Regions from separate parts of the Homo sapiens genome. Here region 1 is linked to region 2. The links come from fine-mapping of genetic effects on gene expression. Tissue or cell type: whole blood. Region 2 holds a variant in brackets; the other region holds the start of a gene. All regions are shown on one strand. Distances are between the middles of the regions.

Region 1 (15,526 bases), 32 kb after region 2:
ATCCTGTAAGAGGTTTTATTTCCATTTCACAGTTGAGACTGAGACTCAGAGTGGGTTAAGTATTGCCTAAGGCTATGTTACCAACTTGGGCTAATACTTTGCTTTTCTTACACAAAGCCTGTGCTTGTGCCTGAATGGAGCCCAGGACTGAAGGATAATGGTAGGCAGTTGCTTTTAATGCTTTGTCAAATTCCTCATCGTTCCCTTATCCCTTATTCTCTTCCCCCAGTATCCAACAGTATCCCCCAAAATCCAACAAAATATTTAGTATCTACATAAGCTTCCCTCTACTCACCTTCTACCATTCAGATTTTTATAGTGTGTGGCTTCAGGAATTTATTGTCAATAAATATTTTTTGAGTACTTACTGTATGACAAATACTGTTCTGTGTGCTTGGAATATATCTGTAAATAAAAAGGACAAAGGTTCTTGACCTAGTAGAGCTGACATTATAGCAGGAGGAGATAGATAATAAACATAAATGGAAGGTAGTAAGTGCTATGGAAAAAAGAAAAAAGTGGCATAGCATTAAATAAAGAGGTCAGAGTAGGTCTCATGGGAAAGGTAACATTTTACCAAAGACTTGAAGGAAGTGAGGGAGTAATTCAGATTCCCTGGGGAAGAGCATCCCAGTCAGAGGGAAGAGCTGCAGAGGAAAGAGCTGCTACAAAACCTTTGGGCAGAAGAATACCTGGCATGTGTGGGGAATAGCAAGGAGTGGCTGAAGTGGAGTGAGCAACAGAAGACGAAGTCGTAGAGGTAACGTGGGAAGCTAGATTATGTATGACATTGTAAGCTACTAGCTTAGGCTTTTACTCTGAGATAGGAGCCATTGGAGGGTCATGGAGAAAAAGAAGATACATATTTTGAAAGGCTCATTCTGGTTGCTGTAGGGCAAGAGTAGACACAGGAAGAAGCATTTGGAGGCTTTTGCAGTAATACAAGCAAGGGATAATGGTGGCTCAAAACAGAGGATGGCAGAGGAAGTGGCGGAAAATAGTCACGTTCTATATGTAATTTGAAAGTAAAGACAGTGGGGCTACCTGATGTATTAGATGTAGAGTGTGAAAGAAAGAGAAGAGTTATAAATTAAGGTTTTTCCCCTGAACAAACTGAAATATGGATATGTTGTTAACTGAGGTGGGGGCAGAGGGATGGTAACTGGAGATTTTGGGGAGGAAGATTAGGAGTTTAGTTTGGTGCACGTGGGATAGGAAATGTCTTGAAGACATTCAGCCTGAAATGTTGAAGGGAATATAGGAAATATGACCTTGGAGTTTGAGAGAGATGAAATTCAGATATAAATTCGGGATTTGTTGGCAATATAAATGATATTTAATGCTGTGAGACTGAATGAGATCACCAAGGAAATGGTTATAGACAGAAAAGGACCAAGAACTCCAAAGTAAAATGTTGAGGCGAAGAAGAAGCAAAAAGATTTGGACAGCAAAACCACTGAGGCAAGGGAAAAGCAAGAGAATTCTGTGTCCTGCAAACCAAGTGCTGAATGTGTCTCCAGAGAGAGTGGGTGATCAAATGTGATCAGATAAAAACATGATAAAGCAAGTAAGACAGCTGAAAATTGACCTTTACATTTAAAAGAGCAGGTTTTTGTTGGAGTGCTGGAATAAAAACCTGTTTGGTGTGGGTTTAAGAGAAAATAGAAGAGAAATTTAGCAGCAAGTATAGACAGCTTTATAGTTTTGCTTCAAAGGGGAGCCAGGAAATAGGACAGAAACTGAAAGGGAAAGTGAAGACCAAAAAAATGATAGCATGTTTGCACCCTGATTGAAATGAAATGGTAGAGAGTTGTTAGTTGATGGTGTGAGAGAGGGAAGAATTGCTGGGGAAATATTCTGGAGTACATAAGTGCACAAGTGCAAAGCCTGGCTTTCGACAAGGGCAGGGATGGTTGATCTATGGGAACAAGTGAGAAGACAGAGTAGATGAATACCGATATTAGTAAATGGGTAGATGAGGTGATGAGAGTCTTTGGGAGTTCTTTTCTGATTGCTTCAATTTTCTCAGGGAAGTTGGAGGCAAGGAATCAGCTGAGATTGAGGATAGGGGAGTGAGAGAAAAGGTGTGAAACAACTTAGGACATTGGGAGAGTGAATGAACAAGGGATGCTTAGTGTAACTGCTTGGCAGTATTAAGGGCTCACTTGAATATGGTGGTGATTAATTTAAAGTGAAACCAGTTATCCTGGCTTTGTTCTTTGCTTGTGTGTGTGCTTTCCAGACCATGTACAGTTACATGGGTGCAAACCAGAGTAGGTAGAGAGTTAGATTTACCCAGAATGGTGGTTTTAACAAATTGAGAGAAGGGCAAGGGAGACAGGTATATATGCATGGGCATGATGACAATGATTGACCATTCAATTTAAGTTGGGTAAGGAGAGTGAACCTCAAGAAGGGTGAAGGACAGAGGGCTGAGGGACAGCATAAAGGTGAATAGATTGGAGATCCAAGAGATTAAAACAATAGAAGTAGGCTAGAAAGATAGGATATAGAGATGAGAGAGTGGGGAAAGACAAGGTTTTAATTTTGGAAATGAGTAGCTGAGATAGAGTGGAGAGCAAGATCATTGCAAGATCTCACTACTTAGCACTCAAGTAGAAGAAAAAAAAAAAGACCATTGAAAGAGTGAAGTCAAGAAAATGAGAGGCAGGGTGAGGGTGGATTACCAAGAAGCGTATGAAAATCCCCAAGAATTAAAACAGGAGTATCACTGGAGGGAGTGACATTGAAACAGGAGCTAAAATCATCAAGAAATAAGGGAGAATGAATTGGGCATTGGTAGTTAAAAGCAACACATAGGGTCATGTAGATAGTGCTGTAATCTGATGCCATGAGGTTCAAAGCTGGGGGTTTTAGCGAGGAGGAAAGAAGAATGGTCTGAAAACAAAACAAAAAATGAGGATAACTACCCCACTTCAGGCTCAGCAGTGTGAGGGCTGTGGGAGACAAGCTGCCACCTTTGGAAAAGGATGCAGGGGAGGCAGTCCTTTCAGAGAAACTCTGGTTTGTTAGAGTAAGATTGTGAAGTGCATATCCAGAGAATAGGTTGAAGATACAGGGAATTTTGTTGATCATGGGCAGTGAATTATAGAGGAGACAGTGGAAGGGTTACAGAAATTTGGGAGAGATGGGAAGACAGAATAGGAACATACAGAACTGCATGGAAATTAGCGTGGAGAGTGGCCTAGAATCCAGGGGTTCTTGGATGATTGACACAGGCTGGGATAAAAGGTTAATGACATAAGTTCCAGTAAGTGTAAGGCAGATAGTAGTAGTGAGCGTGTGAGTGGGTGGGTAGGGAGGGGTGAATTTTGGGGGCTTCCTCTTCACCTTGAAGGAGATGTGTTCTCAGAATGTAGGCCTTTTCACATCCTCATGAGCATATTATTGCTCACTAATGGGATTAATGTGCTAGTTCTCTGGGTTATGTGCATTTTGACAAGGACCTTTTGGGGATAATATCACAAACCTCCTCAGAACAGTGCAAACTTCTAATAGCAAGCAGTGTCATTGTAGTGCTCTAAAAATTTTGATTTTGGGCAAAGTGATCAGAGCTTAGGTGAGAGCCAGGGTTTGACCAACATTCTGTGGAAGGTTGGGCCTGATAAGGCATACTCCTTTGGCCACCAAGAGGGCTCAGCTGCAGGGGAGAGGCAGATTAGAAACAGCTGAAGGCTTGTTGGGCCTGCTAGCTTAGACCACGCCTATACTTTTTGCTTTTTTTTCCTTTCGTAACTCACAGATGCCATCAATGTTGGTGTAACTTGACGAACAATAACCATCATCAAAAAATTAAAACATCATTTTCCTCCAGGTATATTACTGTGATTAATGAGATAATTCCCCAGAGGTGGGGTAGTCAGGAAGCAGCCATTTCCCAATTGGCTGGCATGTGCTCAGCACCACAAGTCTGGCAACACTATTTGGTGCTGCCTCCTTATGCCCATCAGGTAATGCTGGGGTAAAAGTACCCAAGGAAAGGGCTTAGAAAGACAAATGGCCTTTTCTGCCACCAAATGGAACCAACTGGCATTGAGAATCAAGTAACATCCAGTATGATCCTAAGGTCTTCTGTCCTAAACAGACTAGCTCTGTAATTCTTTGACCATAATACTACTAGGATGATGGAACAAATTGATTTTACCAATGCTGAGGTCCCTCAGGCTCCCACGAAACCTGGCTCAAGAGGAGCTGCTTCTACTTTACAAGCTCTGTTGGCTCACTGCTTGCCACTCCAGGCTGGCCCTGTGGCCTTGTGCTGGGCCCGAGTGACATTTGAACTCTGGTCAGTGAGAACACTGTGGGCCTCACACTCTTTTTAAGTTGCAAAATAAATAGATCTTTAAGACATTGAGCAGATTTTGTGGATGTAGCTGAGAATATTTTTGTCATTAAAAGAAAAAAAAAGAGGCAGAAGGAATCATCTCTTTGACTCTAACTTGCTCTCCATTGCCTTCTGAATGTACCCTCAGAGATAAGAACAAGGAGGCCGGGCACGGTGGCTCACACCTGTAAACCCAACACTTTGGGAGACTGAGGTGGGCAGATCACTTGAGGTCAGGAGTTTAAGACCAGCCTGGCCAACATTGTGAAACCCCATCTCTACTAAAAATACAAAAATTAGCCGGGTGTGGTGGCAGGCACCTGTAGTCCCAGCTACTCTGGAGGCTGAGGCATGAGAATCTCTCGAACCCGGGAGGCAGAGGTGGCAGTGAGCCGGGATCGTGCCACTGCACTCCAGCCTGGGTGACAGAGCAAGACTCCATCTCAAAAAACAAAATAAAAAAGAGAAGGGAATATAACCCCTAAAAGCCTGAGAGGCTAATTTTTTGATAATGTTATGTGGAACATCAAAATACTTTGTTAGTAGCTGTTTTGAGAGGCAGAACCCACATTAGTGACTTCTTGGTTACTGCCTTGCAGATCCTTAAGTCTCTTTGGTCTTCTGCGGCTTGCTTAGGCTTTCTTTATTATCTACCCATGGCTCATGTTCATGAGGTTCATTGAAGATGTGAACTGGGGCTGAAAATTGGGATGTGACATAATGTATGATAAAACTTGATTTGATTAAAAACCGAGGATGGGAGTAGGAGTTTATAGTGTTGACTCATCCAATAGCCTGCCACCTAGTCTGATCTTAATATGTTGACAGTATTTAGATTCAATAGTAACTTGTAGCATCAAAAACAATAACAAAAATATATAAAGATGGTCCCTGACATACAATGGTTCAACTTGGAATTATTCTTTTGTCCCCTCTATATATTTTCAAACAGCCTGGCTTCAAGCTCACTAATTCTTTCTTCTGCTTGATCAATTCTGCTAACAGCCTCTGATGGATGCATCCTTCAGTATGTCAATGGCATTTTTCAACTCCAGAATTTCTGCTTGATTCTTTTTAATTATTTCAATTTCTTTGTTAAATTTATTTGATAGAATTCTGAATTCTCCCTCTCTGTGTTATCTTGAATTTTTTTGAATTTCCTCAAAACAGCTATTTTGAATTCCTTGTCTGAAAGGTCACTATCTCTGTCTCTTCAGTATTGGTCACTGATGTCTTATTTAGTTTGTTTGGTAAGGGCATGTTTTCCTGGATGGTCCTGTGCTTGTGGATGCTTGTTAGTGTCTGGTCTGGGCTTGTTTGTACCTGTCCTTCTTCGGAATGTTTTCCAGGTATTTGAAGGGACTTGGGTGTTATGATCTAAGTTTTTGGCCACTGCAGCCATATCAGCATTAAGGGGTACCCCAAGCCCAGTAACGCTGTGGCTCTTGCAGACTCATAGAGGTACCACCTTGGTGGTCCTAGATAATATCCAGAATAATTCTCTGGATTACCAGGCAGAGACTCTTGTTCTCTTCCTTTACTTTTTCCCAAAGAAACAGAGTCTCTCTTCCTGTGCTGAGTTGACTGGAGCTAAGGGAGGGGTGATATAAGCACTCCTGTGGCCACCACTACTGGGACTGCCCTGGGTCAGACCTGAAGCCAGCATAGCACTGGGTCTTGCCCAAGGCCCACTGTAACTATTACGTGGCTACCATCTATGTTCGCTCAAGGCTCTAGGGCGCTACAATCAGCAGGTGGTAAAACCAGCAAGGCTGTGTCCTTTCCTTCAGGGAATCAAGTTCCCCTGGGCCCTGGGTGAGTCCAGAGACGCTGTCTGGGAGTCAGGGCCTGGAGTTGGAAACTTTAGAAATCTACCTGGTTTTGTATTCTACTGTGGCTGACCTGGCACCCGAACCACTGAAGTCCTTCCCACCCTTTCCTGCTCTTCCCCAGGCAAAGGAGTTTCTTCTCATGTCCAACACCACCACAGGCCCATGAGGAGTACTGCTGGGATACTGCCAATGTTCACTTAAGGCCCAAGGGCTCTTCTGCCAGCATGTGTTGGATGCTGCCAGGAAAGTGACTTACCCTTCAGGGCAGTGGGCTCCTCTCTGGCCTAGAATAGGTCCAGAGATGCCATCCAAGAGCCAAGGACTGGAATCAGGGACCCAAAGAGCTGGCTTGGTGCTCTTTCCCACTGTGGCTAAGCTGGTACCTAAGCTCAAGACGGAGTCCCCTTTATTCTTCCCTCTGTTCTTCTCAAGCAGAAGTGGTCTCTCCTCGTAGCCACCAGACCTGTGAATGTGCTGGGTCACATCTGAAGCCAGTGCATTTCGGAGTTTCAGCTGAGGCCCACGGTATGTAGTACTTGGCTACTGCTACTGATTTTTCAGGGTCCAAAGGCTCTTTATTCAGCATGTGATGAAATCTGCCAAGACTGGGTCCTTCCCTTCAAGGCAGTTCCCTTTTGGCCCAGGGTATATCTAGAAATGTCATCCAAGAGCTAGGGCCTGCAATGAGTGCCTCAGGATTTTGCCCAGTACCCTATCCTACTCTGGCTGAACTGGTATCCAAGTTGCAAGACAAAGTCCTTTTCACTCTTCCCTCTTCTCTCCTCAAGCAAAGGAAGGAGTCCCTTTTGGAGCCATAAGCTGTGTTGCCTGGGGTTGGGGGAGGGGTGCTGTAAGCACTTACTTAGCCATCCTGGCTGGTGTCTTACTAGATCGTGCGCTCCCCAGTCCACTGGCTCAGAGCCCAGCACAGCACTAGGACTTGCCTGGGTATTGCAGTTGTTGTGGCCCAGACAGGCTTTCAAGTTTATTTAGGACCTCAGAGCACTTTAGCCCATGGTGGTGGAGGTAGTCAAAACTCAGTTTCTGAAACCTGGGATGGGCAATTCTCCTCTGGCTAAGGGTGGTCTAAATGGTCCCTCCATTGGCAACAGCTAAGTTCTGCCCCGTATTGGCAGCACTGAATTCTAGAGTCCCACAATCGCTGTGCCCTCCCTCCAAGTGCACAGATTCTCTCTCCACACTATGTGGCTGCTGCCAGGGGATGGGGGAGGGGTGGTGTCAGCAATTCAAGATTGTCTTTCTTATCTTCCTCAGTGCTTCTTTCAACAATACGAAGTTAAAACCAGGTACTGTGATCACTTTGTGATCACTGATTTTTGGTTCTTATGAAGGTGCTTTTTTGTGTAGATAGTTGTTAAATTTGATGTTCGTGCATGGAGAACAATCAGTGAAGGCTTCTGTTTGGCCATCTTGCTCTGCGTCCTCCCCAACTTAGGATTTTTTTACTTTATCATGGGTTCATCAGGGTATTGCATGCATTTTTGACTTACAATATTTTCAACTTGTGGTGGTTTATTGAGATGTAACCCTATCATAAGTCAAGGAGCACCTGTACTATGGTAATAGAGACAGCTAGTATATCCCTTTAAATAGGAAACATACAGTGTCATAAGCTCAATGTGATTTATTCAGATTTAGACCCTAGTAATTATAAAAGTCTATACAAGTTTTTTTTTCTTTCTCAGCAATCTTAACTTCCTGTGACTGAGATTCATTGTTTTAAAGTGCATTCACAGTTGAGAAGGTTTACTTCAGAATCTCAGGGAACTGCACTAAAGAATCTGGTATCAATTTTCTGAGGATTTAAAAAAATCATACTTAAATGCTGAGTTATAAAAGATGTTGGCAAGTACAACATTTTTTCCAAACTATACGATAAAGAGCATTGAAATTTATCATGCCCCAAACCCATTAAAATTATCTTCACCTGTAACTGAACATCAGCTGTTATTTCCTTACCTTCTTTTGGCTTTCAACTTCTAGGATGTCTGTTGAAACACCCCTCAATGTTTATGTGGCCTCCAAGGCATACAAACATTTACCAGGGTAACCCCATAAGGAAAGAATTGGAAGTTTCATTTATTTTTTTCCTACCTTTAGTTCTCTTTTTTCCATCTTTCAGATCTTTAGATGTTCTGAGTTTTTCTAGCTGGAGACTGGGGAAACCTAGCTCCCCTCACTGTGGCCAGTGGAAGACTGCTGTGGAGAACCTGAATCCAAAGTGTTTTTTGTTAGGAGACGAAGTAAACAGGCCAGTTTACAGTTTCAATACCAGTATGCCTTTTTCTCTACCAACATCTGTGTGATTTACATCTTGAATCATATAATTCCATTCAGAATGAAAAGCTCAGTTTCTGATTGGCTGAAATGAGTTCTAGTATTCCTTTCTTTGTTAGAAGTCAAAATCACAATGTTCTGGAACATTAGCATGTGTTGGGTAAAGTTGATAACAGTATACTAAAACTCAGATAGCTGCTTCAGTACTGAAGTCAGAACAGTTCTCCCTGGAAAGACAACCAAACTTTTCTCTTATTGTAGCACTACATTGTAATTGCTTATTTAGCTATTTTGTAAGCTACTTTTATTCTGTTACTTCTCTGGTATTCCCAGGGTCCAGGACATTATCATGAATTCAAGAAATGTTTGATGCATAAATAAAGGAATGAAAATATATAAGGAATATTATGTTTACTAAAGGCATAATAGTTTGGCTCTTCCTGACTATCCTGAGTTATGATCAACTCTGAAAAAGGGAGTAATTTTTCAAGTCTATTAAACATAGCAGGGTGGAGGTGGAGGTAAGAAGAGTTGGGGAAAGGTATATTATGAAACATAGAAATACTATTTACTAAATACATATTAACAAATCTTAGCATAATTTAATTTTACTCCAGGCTGCCCCCCATCCCTTTCCCCTGCCCTCTTTTTTCTTGCCTATAGAATGTAAGGAAGGGAACACACTTCTTTGTTAAGGAAAACTGAGTAAGGTTGTCATTTCATTCTGTTATGACTGGAGTTTTTCCTTCTCATCATTCATCAGGTCAATTTAAGTTTTATACATCTAAACTGTGTAACACTGCATATAAAAATAAGTCCATGTTTAAGACAAAGTGGAAAAGTACCAAACACTTTTAAAAAATGAATTGAAGAAAACCTTCTCTTTGACAACTTCGGTTTTCATTTGGGGAGGTGGTATGAAATCATCTAGGTACATTTTTGTCTATTGGGATGAAGAATGCTATCCACTAAGAATATTGATTTAAAAATCAAATGCCTGGACTGGAGGGGAAGGAAAGGACAAAAGACTGCATGCTATGTGCTATTTTACATCAAGTCACCTCCTTCCTGCTATACATGAGCTTCAGTTGATGCCTTGGTTTGGAGCCTTTGAACTTTCTTAGTTATCACTGATTTTAAATGGTAGTCACTGGACCGGGGATACAATTAAAATAATGTAACATGCCATATGAACATTTTAAACCAAGAAACTGATTTTTCATTTTTGAGTGGAGAACTCAGTCCTTAAAAAAATTTGTGGTCCGAAGAAACAGCATTACTAATGAGGACTCTCCCTTTTACAACTGGGGGTTCCTGCCCACATCTTCCAAATACCTCCTTTGCCAGGGCTTGCCTAGGTCAGATGTGAAGTAAATAGAACTGATGAATGATTTTTTTGACTCTCTTGTCATGTAGTTTTCTGTCATCTTAATATGCTGAAGGGGAGCACATTCAGAAGTGATCTCATTTGAGAAGGACTACTTTCAAGTTCTATTTTAGGCCACATAAATTTTCAAAAAATAAAATTCTGAATTAAATCTTAAACCTTTGGGAAGGCTTCAGATCACATATTTGGTGGAATGTACTATATTACCTAAATAATAAACATTTTATTTGGATACATCTTTGGGATGCTTGTTAAAAAATTATAGATTAAAATTTTAGTGTTAGAATTACCATTTGAGGATAGAGGAATAAAAAGTTCTCTATTCCTTCAAACTTATATGGACTCCATTTTTCTAGTGCTTTACTGACATCATGAAGAGTCTTTCTTCTCAAGGTGGCAACATTTCCTTGCCTTGTACTTTTATTCTGAATGATGTGGTTTTTCGCCCTTACATTTGCCATATAGAATTTATGAGGTTTATGTGTTTTTGCTCTACAGTTTCTTCTATGATCTTACATTTTATCTCCCTTAAGAGTGTTTAGAAAAACAATAATAGGAAAAAATATTTTGGTGCAATAATAAGTAAAAATGGGATTCCTGGAGGTGGATTGGAATTATTTAGTCTTCTGTGTTTTTTCTAGACATCCATAAATTTTCTTTTTCTTTTTATTCTTCTATTGGACAGAAATTTCACTTGAAGGTAGATTATTAGTCTCTACCAAAGACCGTCTTAAATCACAATGCTTTAAGAACTTTTGAATTAAGCTTCTTAGAGGAACACATAATATATTCACCTTACCTTGTTTTAGTTGAAACAAATTCTTTTTTAAATTTAGGTCTTCTTTAAAAAAAGAAACAGAACACACTTCATTTTTATATAGAATAAACTTTGTTTTTATTATACACATGGATGAAAAATAAAAGTTTTTATGTACATACGACATATAGTGCAAATGAAAAGCTTTTAAATACCATGGATAGACATGTTGTTGGAAACAAAAGGAGATGAATGATGGGGGTTAGGATGGTCGTCCTGGAACTGCAGGAGGGGGTCGCCTAGTAAAAACAAAACAAAACAAAACAAAATAACAAAAAGAAAGACACAGATGCAGAGGAAGAAAACAATGTTTAAATTATAAAATAAACCCAAATAATAGCATGCAAAAATAGCTCACAAAAGTCAAATTCAAATCACACACAAAAACATGCAGACATGCAAAGGAAATGAAGGGACATCACATAGCTAAGTTAGCAGTTCCCAGGACTTTTCCTGGCTACTAGCAATGTTCTAGGTATGAGCCATTTGAGCTCACTCAAAAAGCTTCTTATTTTGCACCATGGAATGATAAATCCATGCACTCTTATTCAGGAGAACTGGGACTAGTCCCCGAGCCAAATACCTTTATAACTTGTATATTTGATTTTCAACCCTGATTTTGTGAAACTCAGTTATTTCCAAAGATTTCAATGAATGTTGTGAAATCTCCATAGGGGGAGAGGGAGTTGATGTAGCCAATGGCAGGTTAAATTTTTTTTAAGTGAGGTAAATTAGAAGGTGTCAAGAGATCAAATGAGCAATGTAATCACAATGCAGAGAATGCCAGAGGTTGATCTCAGAAAAAAAGGATTTGTAAATAAGAATTTGCTCCAGGTGAGTAGTCCTGGTGTGTAATAGCCTGGATTCAGGCCTAGGGAAACTAGGAGGCAAGGTCTGGTCCATGGCAACCCCAGGATTTTCTAGGATTTCCCTCTGTCTAAGAGCTAGGTATAACTGTATTTCTGATTTGTTCTGAAGTGGGCCCAAGGTAAATGAAATCTGGTCTGCTGGATCTTTCTCCATTTCCCTAGGCTGGCTTGCATTTCATCAGACCTATGGATAATGAAATGAGGGTCCAAGTTGTGCTTCATTTGACATCAGCCTTTCTTGTGTTCAGCAGGGAGATGATTTGCAGCTAGAGAAAATACAGTAAACCCTACATTGCAATGAACAGCTTTGTAAGTAGGAAAACAGCAGGCCAAATAAAGCTTTCCCTCTGGTTTTTGGCAGAAGTCTACACTTTAATTTCCCCTTTCTAACCAAACCATTAATGAACTCAACATTATAGGAAGCTGTAGAATGGTGAGATTATCTCAAGACCCTACTCTCTTTGACTTCTTATCCAGGTGTTCAACAACGCTCACTTCCATCTTATTCTTGTTACACATCTTATTCTTGCTTGTGAGTGGAGCAATGAAGTCTATAAAAAAAAAACAAAAACAAAAACAGAAAAACTTCTTTTTCATTTTCTATGAGATGTTAGTGGAGCCAAACTGACTGGTGTATTTCTGGGCAGTGGTAAAAAATGATCTTAGCTTCCCCAAAGTCCAAAATCAATTTTCCTTCAGTCCAGTTTAAGCTGACTACACTAAAGAGGCCTCCCATCCATTTAAATGATGGAGAACTTGTTATTGGTACCTAACCTTTCAACTTCAGGGCCGGGGCAGGGGCTAGGGGGTCTGCAAGGCTTTAGCTTTAGAGATCCAGGTAATGGGTATCCCTGGTGTTTTCATGAAGAAAGTGTAATTAAATTTCTGTCGAGCTCAATGAGATTTATCACCTGCCCAGAAAACAGAAACTATTTTCGAGTTCTGAAGGGGCTTTAGAACACTTTAATGACCTCAGCAGGGTGGGGAGGTGGGCCATTAAACTGAACAGCAAGTCCACAGTGCTGAAGCGACATTCTGTTAGCATATGCCAAAACACTTTCCTGTTTGAGCTAGTTTGGTGTTCTGATCCAGAAACAGGATCAGAAACTTTATGTCTTGGAATATATTCCACTGACAGCTAGAATGTTTGCTTGAAACATCAGGGTGACATTTATATCCTCAGACAGCTTTTTCTTTTCATCTTCACTTTACTGTATCTACCCTTCCTGTCATTGCTGAAAAAGCATTGTTGTTGATGATACCATTTACTGGGTCAAAATTAGTTCTTTTAAGGATATGGGCAGTTGGGGTTTTTGCTCTTTCTTTTGCATAATTTTTATATGACTTACACAGTGCCGAAATGCTTAAAGGCAAGTGCTGCAAATATTTGGGCTTTTTACATGTAGAGCTACAAAGGTACCTCATACAATTGCCACTCCCATATGAAAGTTGCAGTACTAAATTGGAATACTGAGTTGCTAACAAATTCTTAAGCTCACCATCCTAGTATTCAACATATAAGCAAATTTACCTAATCAAGACTATAATTTCAGGTTATATTTTCTTAAGCATTCTGAAAAATAACTTCAAAGCAGCATGTTTTGGCCAAATCAGGTAAAGGAGATTGGAAAGCTGTATCTGGAACATGGGTGTAATTTATATATAAAAGACTCAATTATTAACAAGAATGATGAATTACCCTCATTCTTTTGGCTCTATGTCAACGCTGAAATTTGGTCTTATGGTGACATTCCTCTGGCCAGATCTCTGAGGAGGTCTTCCTTATAGCTTTTTTCTTTTCTGTTAAAATCTCACAAAAAAGGCCAGGTGCAGTGGCTCATGCCTGTAATCCCAGCACTTTGGGAAGCTGAGGTGGGCGGATCACTTGAGGTCAGGAGTTCGAGACCAGCCTGGCCAATGTGGTGAAATGCCGTCTCTACTAAAAATGCAAAAATTAGCCAGGCATGGTGGCACACGCCTGTAATCCTAGCTACTGGGGAGGCTGAGGCATAAGAATCACTTGAACTTGGGAGGTGGAAGTTGCAGTGAGCCAAGATCACACCACTGCATTGCAGCCTGGGCAACAGAGTGAGACTCTGTCTCAAAAAAAAAAAAAAAAAAAAAAACTCACAAAAAATGCTCTGTTTGCTTTCTTTGCCCATCCTTTAGGTAAGTTAATAACCCAGAGCAGTGAGTGAGCCTGAAGGCTTGGGAAAGGGAGGAAAGAAAGGCAATAGGAATAGTCTTCAACATTCTTCTCTGATGATTAATCTTAGATCAACCTGGATGCCTTCCTTCACAATAATCTCATGGAGGTAATTTAAAGAATCCCTTTTTTGGAGAGTCAGAGAGAAAAGGTAAGGTATAAAATTATCTGAATCCTTCATAAGTCTCATTAAGACTCAATGCATGTATGTCTCTAAACTGCTTTTGTGCTACCTGTTCCAATGTGACTTTCCTCCTTAAGAGTCAGATACTCCTTTGACAAAGTACCAGAGCTCCAGATGAATTGCCCTTAGTTGAGAGCTCTTGTTGCTCTTACATTTGGTCTTTTTCTTTTTTAAGAGATGGTGGGGTCCCATTCCACTCCTCAGGCTGGAATGCAGTGGCACGATCACAGTTCACTGCAGTCTCAAACTCCTGGGCTCAAGTGATCCTCCTGCCTCAGCCTCTCCGGTAGCTGGAACTACAGGCATGAGCCACCATGTCCAGCTAATTAAAACAAACAACTTTTTTTTTTTTTTTTTTAGAGATGAGGTCTTGCTGTGTTGCCAATCCGGTCTCAAACTCTTGGGCTGAACTGATCCTCCTGCCTCAGCCTCTCCGGTAGCTGGAACTACAGGCATGAGCCACCATGCCCAGCTAATTAAAACAAACAACTTTTTTTTTTTTTTTTTTTAGAGATGAGGTCTTGCTGTGTTGCCAATCTGGTCTCAAACTCTTGGGCTGAACTGATCCTCCTGCCTCAGCCTCCTGAGTAGTACATTTGATTTTATCATCCAACTTTTTGTTAGTGAGAGTCTGTACTGAGGAAATCACACTCAATGTCTTTTCCTTTGGCTTAAAGCCACTGAAGCAGTTTCCTAAGGCATGTGCCTCAGGACACTAGATCTGTGAGATGTTCTATGGTCAAATAAGTCTGAGAAATATGTAGACATTACTCATCTCTTGGAGATTCACAATGCAGTCTGATTTTAAGGTTTCTGTGAAGTCTTTCAATAAAGAAACATTTGATTTTTAGTCATTATTTCTCAAGCATATTTGGCCAAAAAACCATTGGTGTATGTGTATGTAAAACTTATTAAGATTTCATGGAATGCACTTTGAGAAATTTTGAATTAAGGTTGTAGTTTTAGCCAATATCTCTTGTATGTATTCTAATTATTAGGCTGCCATAATATAAAATAATACTAGTAACAGGTCTGAAAAGTGGCTATGCCAGGTGTGTGTTGAAGTGCTTGGAAGCAAAGTTTGAGGTCACTCTAAACCAAATACTAAACACGTTTCTCAATATGAAATTTAAAGGTCCCATCAGAAAAACAAAAATCTTGGAAACAGATTGAGCATATGTTTACACCAATGCCAGAGCTATTTAAAACACCAATGGAAAATTGCCAAATAGTTACAATAAGTTTCTTTGTTTTTGGAAATTACCTTTAGAAACTATTCTGAATATATGATTAACATACTTCAAAATCATGCAGTTAAAACAAAACAAACAAACAGAACACAGGTATACAGCATGATTCGCATCCAGAATCTTTCTTCCAGTAAGAAGCTTCCTTTGAAGGTACAGATGTTCCACTCATGGAAAATGTATAGATATGAAAAAGAAATCCCACAGGAAAGAGTAAATTCACACAACAATCTGTCCAGTTCATCTTTTCACAATGAGCATGCCCTGATCGCAGAAAGAAAATAAATCAACATCTCTCTCCTCCTATCACCTTCTTGTCTTCTGCATTTAGATGGCACAAT
Region 2 (15,526 bases):
TTAAAGGTGTCTTTCATATAGGCCTAAAATCAATGTACAGTTACAGTATTTTCGGTTAAGAAACATCACTTTCTTGAACTTTTCCAAATTTGTTCCTAGCACTAGATGTTGGTTTTCTTTTAAGAATGTTTTCACTAGGAAGCATTTTTCCGTTATTTCTCGAAAATTATTGTAGCTATAATAATAAAATGACAATTACAAAGATGTGGGTGCAGGTGTTCAACTACTCTACTCACTAAGTGACTTGTACCAAGTGACTCATGATTTAAGTTTATGACATAACAAAGTTACAAATTACAATGTATTAAGGACCTTTAGAGGTGCTTGAAAATAGCAAAAAAACTGAATGCAAAGGCTATACAAATGCCAAGAATGTACTATGTTTACTCAGCTTGTTCTCCTAACTCATTAGCTGAAGAAAGGATGGGAGAGGGAGAGGAAGGAGCTGATCTGGTAACAAAGAGCCTCTGGGCATAGTGGGGGCAGCCAAGGCTTTAGTAAGAACCTGAGGAGAGATTTCTAAACATAAAAGTGGCTGAGAATGTGCCAGAGACAGACTGCTTTATTCAAAAATTTATCTAAAGTTGACTCTGCTCCAAGGGAAGATGCAGGAAACTGTAACTCCTCCTGAATAGCATGATTGCTGTTCTAAATCCCCTAAATCCAGCTAGCGCTATTGTATGAATGAACTGTGCTACAGGGGCTGCATCAGAACAAAGCTGCCTGCCAAAGACAGGATTTTTGTTTTTGAGAAAAAGTGTACTGTGGGAGACTCCTATTCATTCTTGAAAACCCTGAATAGTCTTTTTCTTCAAGGAAGACTTCCTTGATATTTACTTTCACTGCCCCTTCACTCCCCATCAGATCTATTTCTGTTTATATTGATTACATTCTGTTGTCATTATTTATTTATTTGTTGACTCCTTAAAGACAGGTCTTATGTATTTCTTTTTTTTTCTTTGTAGTTTACCTAAGTACCTGGCCCATGGCAGACAATCAATCAATATTTGTTGAAATAAACTTAATTTATTTTGAAACTATTTTTTAATATATGTTAGAGAATATCTGTTTACAGTTGTCTAGCTTGATGGTCCTACTTTTAAGGGGCTTGAAGGTGTTAATTAGAGAGTAATGCAGATAACAGAAGGACTACAGAATAGGTGCATTAAGGGGAAGATGAGCTGTTTGGAGCAGAGACATGATGAAACACAGCCTAGATAAAACCAAGGCAAATATCACTGGTGATTCACAACCATAACTGTCAGCAGGTATTTCTTCTGCACTGAATGATTGAGCTTCTAGCCCAAGGTTACATAGGAATATGAGTAGTTACATAACCAGGTCCTATTTACATTTTTTTGAGATTCATCTATTTTGTGCTTTTATTTAGTGCTAATTTCTTTTTATCGGTGTTTATGATATCATGTATCATAAGTCACCATCTTAATGTGCAATTTAGTAGTTTTTAGTATATTCAGAAAGTTGTAAAACAACCACCATTGTTTATTCCTAGAACAGTTCATGACCCCAAAAAGAAACCACATACCTATTAGCAATTGCTTCTCACTCACTCCTCTCCCCAATCTTTGACAACCACTGTCTATTTTCTGTCTCTGAATTTTCCTATTTTGGACATTTCATATAAATGGAACCAGTATAATATGTGATCTTTTGCATCTGGTTTCTTTTACTTAGCAAAATGTTTTCAAGGTTCATCCATGTTATAGCATGTTTTAGTATTTCATTCTTTTTTATGATTAATATTCTATTATATAGATAGACAACGTTTTGTTTATCCATTAATCAAGCCCTAGGCATTTGGGTTATTTCCACTTTTCAGCTATTAAGATATGGCTGCTATGTGCATTCTTGTAGAATTTTGTGTGTGAATATGTTTTTAGTTCTCTTGGGTACATATCTAGGAATGGAATTGCTGGGTCATATGGTAACTCTGTGTCTAAGGTTTTGAGGAATTCCCAAACTGTTTTCCAAAGCAACTGTACTGTTTTACATTCCCATCAGCAATTTTTGAGGCTTCTAATTTCTCCACATCCTGGCCAACACTTGTTATTATCCACCGTTTTATTATTATTATTATTACAACCATCCTAGTGGATGGAAAGTGTGTCTCATTGTGGTTTTGATTTGCATTTGCTTTACAACAAATAATGTTGAGTATCTTTTCATGTGTTTATTGGTCATTTGTAGATCTTCTTTAGAGAATGTCTATTGAAACTTTTTGCTCACTTTTCAACTAGAGTGTTTGCCTTTTTATTGTTGAGTTTTAAGTGTTCCTTATATATTCCAGATACTAGTCCCTTATCTGACATAATCCTTCATCTGTTGATTTGCAAATATTTGGGTTGTCTTTTCGTGTTCTTGATGGTGTTCTTTGTGGAACAAAAGTTTAAAATTTTTATGAAGACTGATTTATCTATATCCTTTTGTTGTTTGTGCTTTGGGTGTCCTATCTTAGAAACCATTGCCTTATCCAAGGTCATGAAGCTTTATACCTATGTTTTCTTCTAAGAGTTTTATGGTTTTAGGTCTTACATTTAGCTCTTTGACCTATTTTGAGTTATTTTTGTACATGGTGTGAGGAAGAGGTACAAATTCATTCTTTTGCATGTATCTATGCAGCTGCCCCCGTACCACTTATTGAAAATACTATTCTTTCCTCATTGAACTGTCTTGGTGCCTTTGTCAAAAATCAATTGTTTATAAACATAAGAATTTACTTCTGAACTTTCAATTTTATTCCATTTATCTATTTGTCTATCTTTATGGCAGTACCACACAGTCCTGACCATAGCTTTGTAGTTAGTTTTAAAATCAAGAAGTATGAGACCTCCAACTTCGTTCTTCTTTTTAAAGATTGTTTGGCTATCCTGGATCTCTTGCATTTTAATATAAATTTTAAGATATGATTGCAAATTTCTATAAAAATGGCATCTGGGATTTTGAGGATTACATTAAATATGTAGATCAGTTTGGCGGAGTATATTCATCTTTACAATATTAAGTGTTCCAATCTATAAACATGGGGTTCTTTCCATTTATTTAGGCCTTTTAAATTTTCTTTCCACAATGTTTTATACTTTTCATTGTATAGCTCTTGTGCTTCTCGTGTTAAATTTATTCCTAAATAATTTTTGATGCTATTACAAATGGCATTGTTTTCTTCATTTTTGGGTTGTTCACTGCTATTAATAGAAATTAAGGTTTATATACTGATCTTGTATCCTCAACACTGCTGTACTCATTTATTAGCTCTAATAGTTTTCTGTGCATTCCTTAGGACTTTCGCTATATAAGAGCATATCATCTGCAAATAGACTAGTTGTACTTCTTTCTTTCTAATGTGGATGGATTTTATTTCTTTTTCTTATCTTTCTGGCTAGAATGTATAGTAAAATGTTGAGTAGAAGTGTCAGGAGCAGACATTGTTGCCCTGTTTCTAATCTTAGGGGAAAGTATCCAGTCTTTTACCATTAAGTAGGGTGTTAGCTGTTAGTTTTTCAAGCTGCTCTTTATTAGGTTGAGGAAGTTCCCTTCTATTCCTAGGAGTCTTTTTATATATTCCCCAGTATTTCTATTCAACTCACTGCTGAGAAAGAAGGGGTATCACAGTGACTACAGCAGACCTGCAGTCCCTCCCCTTGGGAGGACTTTGAGGTATTACTGCATAGAGTGAGGCAAGGATATTTCATGTTTATTTTCTAACTTTCTGTAGTTTATCACCAGGTTCTGACAGCAGTACAGAAGGGTCCCTGGGCACTTTTGTGTTTGAAGCCCTTCCTTTTAGAAGCTTCAATAAATGGTAAAATTGCAGCATGTGGCTCCACTTCTATCATTCCTGGACAAGGGCAAAGGTCAGAGAAGAGGTCTTGAGAAAGAGGATGGCTGCTGATGTCCCAAGTGTGCCAGCTGGCCAAGGCCAGCTTAGGCCTGGGGTTGGTGCATTCTAAATGTGGACACAAGGGATTCCAGGAATAAGACCAGGAGAAATCCCAATCCTAGTTTCCCAGACTCCAGCCAATGCTAATATTTAACACAGTGACCCTAATTATGTAGAAAATGAACATAGATGGCAACATCAAGGTGCAGCTTTGCCGGTAGCTTCAGTTAAATTTGTAAATCCCACATAAAAATTTCACAAAAGTGCCACTCTCTTTCACATCCGACTGGACCTAAGACTTGCCATGAACTCAGTGAAGGAGCTTTTCTTATATCTTCTATTTTTCTTCCATTCTTTTAAAGCACGTTTAGCCTACACATTTAGCCCCACCTTCCTCCCCAAGTCAAAGGAGAATTATAGGATATCAGAGTTGAAGAAACCCTTCTCCAGCTCGTACCTCAAACCTAACCATGTTGCTAAATTAACCCTTAACCAAAGCCTCTTCCTTACCCTGACGCTAACAACCATCCCAGCGCTAACTCTAATTCTTAAATTACCGAAGGCCTAACTCCAGCCTAGTCTAGCATCCTTCCTGAATCAGGCCTCTGATTCAGCAACTGTGATAGATGGCATGGCAGAAGTTTGTCTTTGTTCCCTCCACATCTCCCTTGCTTTCCTTCTTTCTTTTCCTAATATTCCTCCCCTACCACCATTCTCCACTATATGTTACAAATACCCAAAGCAGGTGACACCGCCCCTGACTACCTAGAAAGTACTGTAGACTCTCTCCCCAGTCTTTCTCTTGAGGTGCTACCTAAATTAACAGTAAACCCAAAGATGAAGCTGTTTGTCTCCTGATTGTAACGGTGGAGAAATGAGTGTGAGCCTATGTGTTGTGTGGGGGCTACATTAAGGAGGGAGAAGGAGCTCCATAATCCCCTAAGCCTCTGAGAGGCTGTAGTTACTTAGGAGCCCAAGGCGAAGTGTCTCATTGCATCTCTACTCTGGCCCATCTATCCTGGTTACCCTTTAGCTTGTTGAAACGGAGAAGGTTTATCATGTTCTGTCAGTCGATGCTGCTCCCAGGACCAACAGTTCCTCCTTGGCAGCCTTTATCTAGGCCCTCCTTGCAACGGGCCCCGTCACTATCTCTCCCCACAGGGCTTGGCTGGGAAGGGCAGTGCTGCACCCTGAGATGCCTGTGCCCATTTCTGTCTTCCCCCTTGCCTACCATTTTCATTTCTTGACATGTGGAGCACAGCTGTTGGTTTCTGAGCAGCATGGAGTCACACTGGTTCCTCCTGGCCTGAGGGGAAAGAGAGACAGAGAGA[G/C]GTGAGGAAATGGTGGGGCATGTAGGGCAGCAAAGATGTAGGAAAGCAGTGGAGGGGTGAGAGAGGTAACAGTTTTTCCTTCCGTAAAACAGAGATGGGCACTCTGGTCTCAGCCCCATCCAGGGTGGGTGTTGAATCTGGAGTGTGCTGCAGCTGGTAGGTACCGAGAGTTTAGGCAGGAGGGAGTGAGACATAGGCTAGGTGGTGGTCTTGAGGCTGCTGCATGCAGTGGTATACATGTAAAGACAGCTGGCAGAGATGGCTGGGGCCTGAAATTCAGTGGGGTCTCTACTTTCCAGCCTGAGCACCTGTGTCTGAGGGGTTGCATTCTCCTATAGGTGGGCCATTTTTTCCATTTCATAAAAAGGCTCCACCATATAGACTGAGGATCTCTGATGGCCTAAGAAAGAATGAAGAGAAGACTTCTCTTCTGCAAATCTTTTTTTCACGGGCCTTTCCTAAGCATCGCCTTCCTTTCTCATGCCTTAACTCTGGGCCAGAAACAGCTCTCATGCATCCATGGTCCAGCACCATTTGGCCCTTCTGTACCTCCTAAGCAGAATGATTGAAGCCACAAGCAGAACTCAAGCTTGTGTGTGAGTCCTGAGTCCCCTCAATCCTCTGGGAAAGAGAGGCTGTCTCAGTAGGTGAAGAAGCAATCAGTGGAGGAAGGGGAGGGGCACCGTGTCTGCTCACTGTAACCACTGGTTTTTATTCTGACTTCATTTCTGCAAAAGCATTAAAGAGAGGACTTTGGAGCATTTACACCTGGGTTCAGGAGGTTCTCATTTGCATCTCTGATAAAAGTTTGCTTAGGAAGCATATAGGAACTTGAGGCTAAACTTATGTTTGGGATTCTCTCTTAACCTTCCTCATTCACATTGACATCAGTCATGAGATATGGTCACAGAAAGTGCAGAATATGGGGAAGAGGAAAGCCACAGTGAGAAGACTATTGACTGAAGTCTTCTCTTTCCTTTGATCCGCTTGCTGGCCCATCACTACATGGTGTGCCTTGACCCATTCCTGTTGCCCTGGGAAGTGTGGGGAACAGAAAGAGGAGGAACAGAAAGTGAGGAGTTCCTGAGGTGTGCTCCTAGGATGACCTTTGCCAGATTGTTCTGCAAGTAGCTTCATCCTGTGAGAGACATATGGCACTTAGGTGATGCATCATGGGGGGTTTGAGGGCTAAAAACTGTTAACAAAGTTGGATTCTTTTGAGAAACATTTAAAATACACTTCATTTTTATAGGGCATTCTAAAAAGAATCAACTCAGTATTACAATGTTGTGGGTTGGTATGTCAAAGTATGTGTGTGAATAACTAGATTCATTCATTCAACAGTAAACATCTATTGTGAGGCTACCAAGTAAAGGGTGCTGTGACGGGGGTCATACCGACGAATAAAGCAAAGTTTCTGGAAGGAAGTTTCTAAGGAAGACAAAAGAAGAATACAAATTCATTCATTTACCCATTCATTAGGTACTGGAGACATTTAAATAAATAAGACATAGTTTGTGACCTCAAGCTGCTCACCATCCAGTAGCCTATACATCAAGAAGTATGATGGTGTTGAAGGTGCTACAACAGAAATATATCGAGGCTCCAGTGAAGCTGAAAGGGGTCATTGAGCTTAACTGGGGGTGGGGCAGAGAGGGAAGGGTCTGAGAAGGGTAAAAAAAAACAGGCAATGCTTGGGTAGGTGTTTGTGGAGTGAACAAGGATGGTGAGGGTGTTGCAAGCCCAGGAAACACTATACAACAACCTGGAAGAATAATCTAGCAAATCAGCTTCGGGTAAGTGAATGTAGGTTGGGATGGACAGGTTGTCTGGTGGGAGGTTGAATGGAGTGAGAAGAGAGACTAGAGAGGAAATGTCTGTGGATATTGACTCCTCTGCTTTGGGCTGATTCAACTTTCTACCATGTCTTCCTGATACCCCTGGGGGTGATATCCCCTGAAGCTCCAGCTCCTCCCTCCATCCCTCACATCTTTGAGGTATGAGAGTGAGGTACATTTCTGAAACTGCAATTAAGGTAGGACACACTAGATATCATACAAGAGGCACTAATACCTCTGTGCCTTCAGAAAACAGAGAGACCACTTCTGATTGGAGAAATCAGGAAAGGCTTCCTAGAAGTGGAATTTGTACTCAGTCTGAAGGGATGAGGAAGACCTGGACAAGGGGAGGCAGATATGGAAGAATTCTTGGGCAGGTTTGTTTTTAGTAGAGATATAAGTTCTTCACTGAAATTATTTCCTTCACCTTTTTCCAGACTTCTGGTTTCTGCTAAGACTACTATTAGACCCTATAGGAAGTGGAATCTCAGAGCTCATTGCAAATCAAGCAACAGATATTATTTGCAAGATCCCCAAAGTGCATTGCAAGATCTTGCTAGGTTAATGACAACTGTAAATGTGAGTACAGAGTCCCATAACATAATGACTGTCATCTCTTAGAATCTGAGGGATGAAATGCTTATATATTGTCCCACCTGGCCTTGATAGCTACTCATTTAAGACATAGTGTAGGTGTTACATCCTCAGAAAACCTTTCTCCTGGGCTGCTACCATTTCTCACCCTCCTAACCTCAGTTGGGTGCCTGCCTCTTTGATTGCATCATAAACTTGGTCTAGCTTTCTTTGTATTTGCACTATTCTTGATTTTAAATGTGTTTATTTCCTCCACCGGGCTGAGAGTTATTATATTTAAGAGCAAGAATCATGTTTTACACATCTTTGTATTCCTAGAACCTATGATAGAACCTGGCACACAGCAAGTATTCAACAAACATTGGGCAAATGAATGAGTCATTGTAAGCAATTTAAATTATGAGGTCTAAATATAGACACAATCAACCTAAATATATAAAACGAAAAATACATATATAAATGAAGATCACTATTGTAACACGGTCTTCAGGGAAACGTTACAGAACATTAGTGTTGTAGTACAACAAATTCATTCTATGTAATGCACTGGGGAAGAACACTGGCTAGACGCCCAAAAAGCTCTGTTCCAGTCCTGGCTCACAAACAACTTGGGTGACTTTTGTCAATCATATAAACTCTCCAAGTCTCCCTTCCCCTACCGATAATGGTCTTTGTGTTCAAAAAGACAGAGGCGGATGCTCTAATCCTGTCCCTTTACACTTTACATTTAAAGGTAAAAAGCAATCTTTGATCTGTGCTGTACTCTACCTCAGACTTGCTATCAGCTGAAGCCTGGCCTCCAAGAAGAGCTGCTCCATTTCTATCTGGAGAAGGGATGAGGGCATTGAAGAGTCGTGGAAGGCAGCTGTGACAGGCTACTTTAAAGGCGACGCAAACATTTGAGACGCCATGTCCTGCAGGCCTCATTTCCTCCATTCTGTCTTGCTTTCTTTCCCAGCCCTGAAACCCAGGTCTTTGGTCTTTTTCTTCTGTTGCATTCCCTTCTCACTCGGTTTCCTTACGACCAGCTCAGCAGCAATAACAGGAATGGAGAGGGAATTGTCCACATTCACAGTACAATGCTCTGGTTTTATCAGGTCTAGAGCCAGAGGCACTGGAATGTTAATGGGGCCCTCATTTCCCAAGCAGCTGTCCTCTGGATAGCAGATGGCAGTTGTGACAGGAGAGTGACAGCAACCTATGTGTAGCCTGGCCAAGGTATGATGCAGATTTCAGCCAGTCCCCAGAAGCCAAAAACACATTTGACAATTGGAAACATCCTCATACCCTAGGACAATATCTGCTGCGGTGTCTAAGGGCTGACTCATGGCCCAAGGCCATGGCCTTCTTGAACCCTTGGTAAAGAAACAGAGAAATATATTTCTCTCCATCTCCCTCTCCCTCTACTCTCCTTTCTTTCTCTCTTTCGCTCCCTTTCTTTCTCTCTCTTACACACCTGTTCACATAAAAAACAAAAATGTAAGCACCAGCTTGTGATTAAAACAGGCTTCACAAGCACCCTGTGAGGAGTACTGACACATTTGCCTCTGTCCTTTCCTTCAACACCTCTGTTTCTTTTCTCCTTCCCACTTGTAACTTAACTGAGAGAGACCTGATAGGACACTTGGTTCAAATCTTTCAATTTACCCAGGAGAAAGCTGTGACCCAGAAAGGTTAAGAGATTTGTCCAATACCACATCTATTGAACTTCAGTCGGCTAGAAAGTTTTTGGATAAAAAGGATTATGTTTCCTCAGGGGAAGAGTAAACTCTTAGAATCCATATAAAGGCCAGGCATGGTGGCTCATACTTGTAATCCCAGCACTTTAGGAGGCCAAGGCAGGCGGATCATGAGGTCAGGAGTTCGAGACCAGCCTGACCAACATGGTGAAACCCCCTCTCTACTAAAAATACAAAAATTAGCCAGGCGTGGTGGCATGCGCCTGTAATCCCAGCTACTCAGGAGGCTGAGGCAGGAGAATCACTTGAACCTGGGAGGCGGAGGTTGCAGTGAGCCAAGATCGTGCCATTGCACTCCAGCCTGGGGCAACAGAGTGAGATTCCGTCTCAAAAAAAAAAAAAAAAAAAAAAGAATCCATATAAAGGCAGAATTATTTCTACCACATAGAATCCCAAAAGTAGTGCTCAAAGAACAATTTCAATATTCAAAAAAAACCTTATGATATTACACATGTTCCTTCTATCTGAAAATATCAGCCATTTAAAAAAATAAAGCTGAATATACTTAAAAAAACCCAAAATGTATAAAAAATAATATCCATATCCCTACATTCAGACTTATTAAATTTGATTTTTATTACCATCACTATTTTAGGTCAATAGCATTTAATATTCTCTTTAAAAATTGTATTTGTAATTATATGCACTAGATCAACATAAGCAATATAAATATGAAAATGACTTAGGAGTATATGAGGTAGTTTCCTTGGTAGTTATGAGCTTTGAAAATTTAGTCAATGTGAGAGAAATAATAAAAAGAGAGTTCTTAGTGGTGAGAAAATAGAAAGTAAACATCCTATACATCTTCCCCAGCTATGCCTCTGCTACTGCACAGTCTTTTTAGCCAGGGCTTTTTGCCACAGGTCTGCTAAAAGCAAAATAAATAGTGTTCTTATCTTCACTCTGACTCATTAGACTGGAAGAACAAACCCAGATCAAAGTGAGTAGAGAGAGAGTGGGGGCAGGAATTGAGAGGGTGGAGTGGCATTTTATAATCTATTAGTAACTGAGGAGCTCTAGTTAATTTACACCCAGTACCAGCAAGTGGGCAAAGAGATTTCAGAGTCTCCAGCTGCAGTTTTCCGGGTCACCCCCACACACCTGCTGTTCCTTTGCCTTGGATCACTGAGTCAGTCACCTTTTGGCCCAGTTAGCCAACTATCATGATGCACCTTTCTGTTTCTCAGCATCTTGAGGAGTCGTGAGTGGATGCCTGCAAATGGCAGGAGAAAATGAAGAAGCTTCTCCACAGTAGATGTTTAAACGAGGAAATGTTTAGGCTTCATTTGTCTTCACTAAAAATCTTTCTTCTTTGACAGACCTGCCTCTCCTTTTGTCTTGTGTTTTTTGTCCCTCATCTCTGTGTGTGTGTTTCTATCTTGCTTTCTGTCTCCCTCTTCCTGTTATTGTGTCTCTGAGCCTGTCTCCCCTTTGTCTAGTCACTAGGAAATACTGCTCCAGGCACACGTGCACCTGCCTCAGGCACGGGGCTGCTCCGGGGCAGGGGAGGAGTAAGTGGGTGTTTAAAGTTCTGCCCTTTGACCTGTGACGGTGAAGAGGAACGCAGCCAGGTGGCAGGAGCTTTGCACCTCTGCACAGGGTCCGGGGTCTCCAGTTGGCCTCCGGATTGCCAGCAGCTTCTTGTCAGGTCCCTGATTTAGAGAATGAAGGAAGAGATCCTGTCCACAGTACATTCTACTCCCTTGAAACACAACAGTTTCTTTCCAGAAGGGAGCAGCTGCCAGCTGAATCCACGTTTACCTCATGGCACATACGTGCAGGCCTTCATACACGCAGTAGACTCTGGGAGCCAGATTCAAATTTGAGGACGTCTGTGTGACGGGAAAGAATATGACTGGAGGTACTGGCCTGGTGCCCCAACAGAGCAAGGATCCCGGGTTCCCTACTTGTGTTTCAATCTGCAGGGGTGACTCTTTCTCATGTGCAAATCAGTGGAGGGTCAGCCCCTAACAGGATGAGAGTGAGGGTGAGGCTGAGGGGCCTGTGTTCTCTCCCAATAAGAGCAACCTATTTGGGACTTCTCACGGGTCAGCCGGGAAACTGGCCTCCCAGGAGCCCTTTGGGCTGCGCAGCTGGAAGCTGTTGCTCTTAACTGTCATCTAGTGGCTAACTATGAATATTGCAGCCACAAAAACCGCTATACCCTGCTGGAGAATGGCCTCTCACTCCTACTGGTCGTTAGCATTGGCTTTCCTTCCCCATTCTCCACTCCAGCCAGGCTGGGGCCTGGTGTCCTAGTGCCCAGGTTGCCACAGTACAGAGACCCAGAACAAACCTGAGATGAGGAGGCATTCAGCGGCAGGTGAGACCTGTCTAAATAGGAAGTTCACAGCGACTTGATGACTGGAAGGCTTCTTGCTGGTTCTGCAGCAATTGCTAAGCCAGTCCTGCCTCCCCGCTCATCCCCCACCTCTACCCAGTGCACGTCATGGTGGCCATGTTACCTACTTGCCTGTCCAGGGTGTTAGGGGGACTAAGAGATGACTCTTAAGCAAAGCTTGGACCCTGAAACTCCGGTGTTGAAAACCTTCAATGTGTCCTCTCTGCTCTTGTCTGTTGGGCCCTGTGTGCATTAGCTGGGCCCAGCCGCGTCCTTGTTTCCCTTTCATGTATGCTCAGAATTCCTTGATATTCTTCAGGCATTTCCTCCTGCACACTCAGTCTCCACCTCTTTGCTGATAATCTTCTCTTCTCTTTCCAGTTCTTCCTCCACCCCTGGCTCTTCCCTCCACTTGAAAACAGTATCTTCTAGGTCCAGTGCAGATGCCACTTCCTCTTGAATCATTCCCTCACTTCCACTCTGCTTGCCCAACCTGGGGGTAACCTTTGCTCCCACCTTCTCTCACAAGTGCTGTGCCCTGTTTCTGAGACGCATTCTCAGTTGTGTCCCTGTCCTGTCTGCTCACTCATCTGTGTAGCTGCGGCTGACTCACTCATCTCTGATGTATTAAAGCAAATACAAAGGCCTCCGTAAACATATATTGACTGACACCAGGGCTCCTAATAATTGTGGCTCACATTCACTGAGCTCTTGCTCTGGGTGGGGCACCGTGTCGAGTGCCTTAGGACGCTGCTTCAGGCACTGCCTATGACAGCCCTGTGAGGAATGTGCAATTTTTCAGGTGAAAAAATTGCTTATCTCACCATATATTTTCTCTCTTTCTCCACCTCAGGGAGGTTCTGACTACCCAAGCACTGTAGCCTGTGTGCTTGCTCCACAGTGACACCGAGGGTCACCTGGCAGCCGGTCATGGTGGAGGGGAAATGAGGAGTTTTTAATGTAAAATTCCACAGGTGTAGGGAGTTGTAGGTGGGAGACATAAGCAATCCTTTGGGGGAGGCAGTAGAGACTCCAGATTGGTTCCAGTCACAGGCTGATAGGCATTCCCTGGAAGTCTTGGGGCAGATTCCTCCATACTAATTTTTAGTTTCCTGTTTTGTTGATTCTAACCTTATGCCTGTATTCTTAGTTCTAGTGGACTGGGACCCTAAGGCACTTGAGACATAGTGAGGGGGGTGGGGCCATTCATTTCATTTAACAAATATTTATTGAACATTGATGGTGTACCAAGCACAGGGCTGTGCTAAGGAGATGGGACATGTATTCATATTCTATGTCATTCTAGAACTGCTGTTGGTTTCATTTCAACAAAAATTTTTTAGTACCTTAGATAAAACATCTGGAACTTGAAACAAAATTGGCAAATTCATATTCTTCTTGGATGAAGTCAGAAAAGTCGCAGAGGTATGAGGATATCTAAGTAATTAAAACAAGAGAACGTTAGAACCGCAGTCCCATGTTTGAAGAGCCAGGCCCTTGGTTGTTTCTGAGAGAATACAAGGGACACCACAGGGAGCTATCTTCCACTCCAGTTCTGGAGCACTCAGGCCATTGGGGAGCTCCCAAAAGATGGATTTGCCCTCCTATGTCACTTTGGCTTTTCTGTCCCTTTTGTTTTGCACTAACCAATTTTGGATTGTCAGACACTGTACAAACAAGGCAGGATAAAGATTGTTCACAACAGTAGATGTGTAATGAGCGAAATGAATCCCAGGTTTCCTCTTTGAAAGGGTCTGCACTCAAGTTTTTGATGTTTAACCTGCACCTGTCCCCTTTCGTACCTGGGCTGACTTCTTGGAGTTTGTGTCCTTGCACCCTGAAACAATCCACCTGTTTCCTCCCACAGAATGTCTTCTCCCTTCACCCATTCTTTTCCTTTGGAACATTTTTTCTTTCTAGTTAGCAGTTGAAGCAGTGATGTTGCAAGAACACCAGTTCCTTTTACAGGGTGACCTGCCTGCGCTCTGTCTCACTTGGCACTGTGGTTCATTTCATTACAGTGTAAGGGGCCAAGGCCTGCAGGGGCCTGATAATCATAAACTGTGTGTGTTGCACCATTCATGCCCCTGGCATCCAAGAAATAGAAACTCAGAATGCTGGCAGTTTTGCCGGGAACACACCTCCTCTCTAATGAGGGAAGATTTCATTGTCCATTGTTTATTTAAAACAAAGGCATGTGAAAGGAGTTTGATGCTCATGAGACATTTCTTGCTTCATTTCTCCTCACACTTCCCTGGGCCCTGTAAGACCAGAGATGGTGGGTCTGACATGAGTGCCCTCGGGGTCTTTGTCTTTGATATGGGAATAGGCTCTCTTGGACTTGTCACCCAAATGCTGACCAGCAGAGACCAGGAGGCCAGTTTAGAACTCCTTCAGCATACAATAATCTTATATAAACATGACCTTAGTGTGACTTGAAGGGCTTTGGAGACTGACGATGAGTGTGGCTTTGAAATTGTCAGGCCTACCTGAGAGAGTCCTTGAAGGAAGTGGGTCAGTACAGGCACTTCTTATTACAGCCCAGCCTCACCTCCTCCAACCCTGTAGGTGTGTTTCCATTGCGCACACTTGGAATTACTCTGAGCATATTTGGCTAAATGTTCCTTTATCTTTTTTCAGACTGTTCTGCATTAGAACTCTTTGCTCAAGGGTATGTAATGCTTAAGGCACATTGAGAACTTTCTCCCAAAGTCTCAGTAAGGGGCTTTGCCAAAAATAAACAGCTTGGAACCCGGAGCTTTGGCCCACATGAGGAGCTTTTAATCCTTAAGATCTTTTGATACTTAAACCATCCTTTCAAAAGACTTTTCATTCCCGTCTTGTCCTCCTGAGAGCTCAGGGCACCTCAAAGGTGCTGTTCGGTCACCTTTGTTGTGAGGTAGGTATATTACATTTTTCTAAACAAGAATTAAGATTGCTACCCCAATCCTCCCAGAATAGCGATGAGTAGAGCTTCACTGCCTGCCTAAGGTAATTTCTCCTTGTGCCTAGCTTAGGTTTGGCTGGCTGGAGGAAAAACTGCCCACTCCCTTTCCAGTTGGCTGTCAACAGACTGTCTGCTCTGACCCTCCAGGACCTGGCTATGAAAGTGAACAGGTGCTGCCGATGCCCAGTTGTATTCTAGGCCTACCCTTCTCCCTGATCTCCACCCTCTGCCAAAGGCTTGTGTAATTAGAGACCAAGGGAGCTGGGGGCAAGAGAGCCATGCACAAGGATACTTTGCTCTTCGCTGCTGGGGCAGGTCTAATGGGCATGGGGGTAGTATGGGATGGTGGGATATTACCCTATTAGATCAAACACTAGCAATTTCACATAAAACATCCAGATTTCTAGTACTGTTAGAAGACCCAGTGGATCTGGCCTCTGGACTCACATGCCTGCAGGTAACACTGCTGGCGTGGGGGTGGGCTGAAGCGGGGAGGTGATTTCCCATTCATTGCAGTCCTGTTTGGCCAGCTTTACTCATTATGCCCCTCATCTGACTGTCATGGGCCTGTGAGTTTGTGTCCCACCCTCAATTAAAATATGCTAGACTGTCCTTACTCGTGCTGATCCATGCAGTGTTAACAACTCTTAATAAGCACTCTATCACTTAGTACTTTTGTTTCTTAAATAGGCCTTTGAGTTTATTGAACCTCTGATAATCTGCTTTCGTTATATTCAAAATTATGTAAAAATAACACAACTGAATAACGAGCACTTGAAAGCACTTGTGAATTTTGTTCTGAAAATACTAAAACCGTCTACCTATTTACTGAGAATGA

Evidence for each region. PIP is the estimated chance that this variant, and not a neighbour inherited with it, causes the effect.
Region 1: it holds the start of C1orf105, and the variant in region 2 is fine-mapped to the expression of C1orf105 in whole blood (INTERVAL, PIP above 0.99).

The regions. Positions count from the first base shown.
Region 1 is chr1:172,413,673-172,429,198 of GRCh38, reverse strand. C1orf105 (chromosome 1 open reading frame 105) reads right to left here and starts at 8,514. Exons shown (of 7, transcript NM_139240.4): 1 at 8,293-8,514. The coding sequence starts at 8,313. LOC102724528 (a long non-coding RNA gene) reads left to right here and starts at 5,843. Exons shown (of 3, transcript XR_001738294.3): 1 at 5,843-6,702. It also overlaps a transcript of DNM3 not described here. RefSeq lists an enhancer at 1-371.
Region 2 is chr1:172,446,093-172,461,618 of GRCh38, reverse strand. C1orf105 (chromosome 1 open reading frame 105) reads right to left here. Exons shown (of 7, transcript NM_139240.4): 3 at 13,088-13,178; 4 at 5,130-5,204. Among named protein-coding and RNA genes, the nearest start is that of PIGC, 9.8 kb to the right of the region's middle. The variant G/C (reference allele first, on the strand shown) is at 5,230.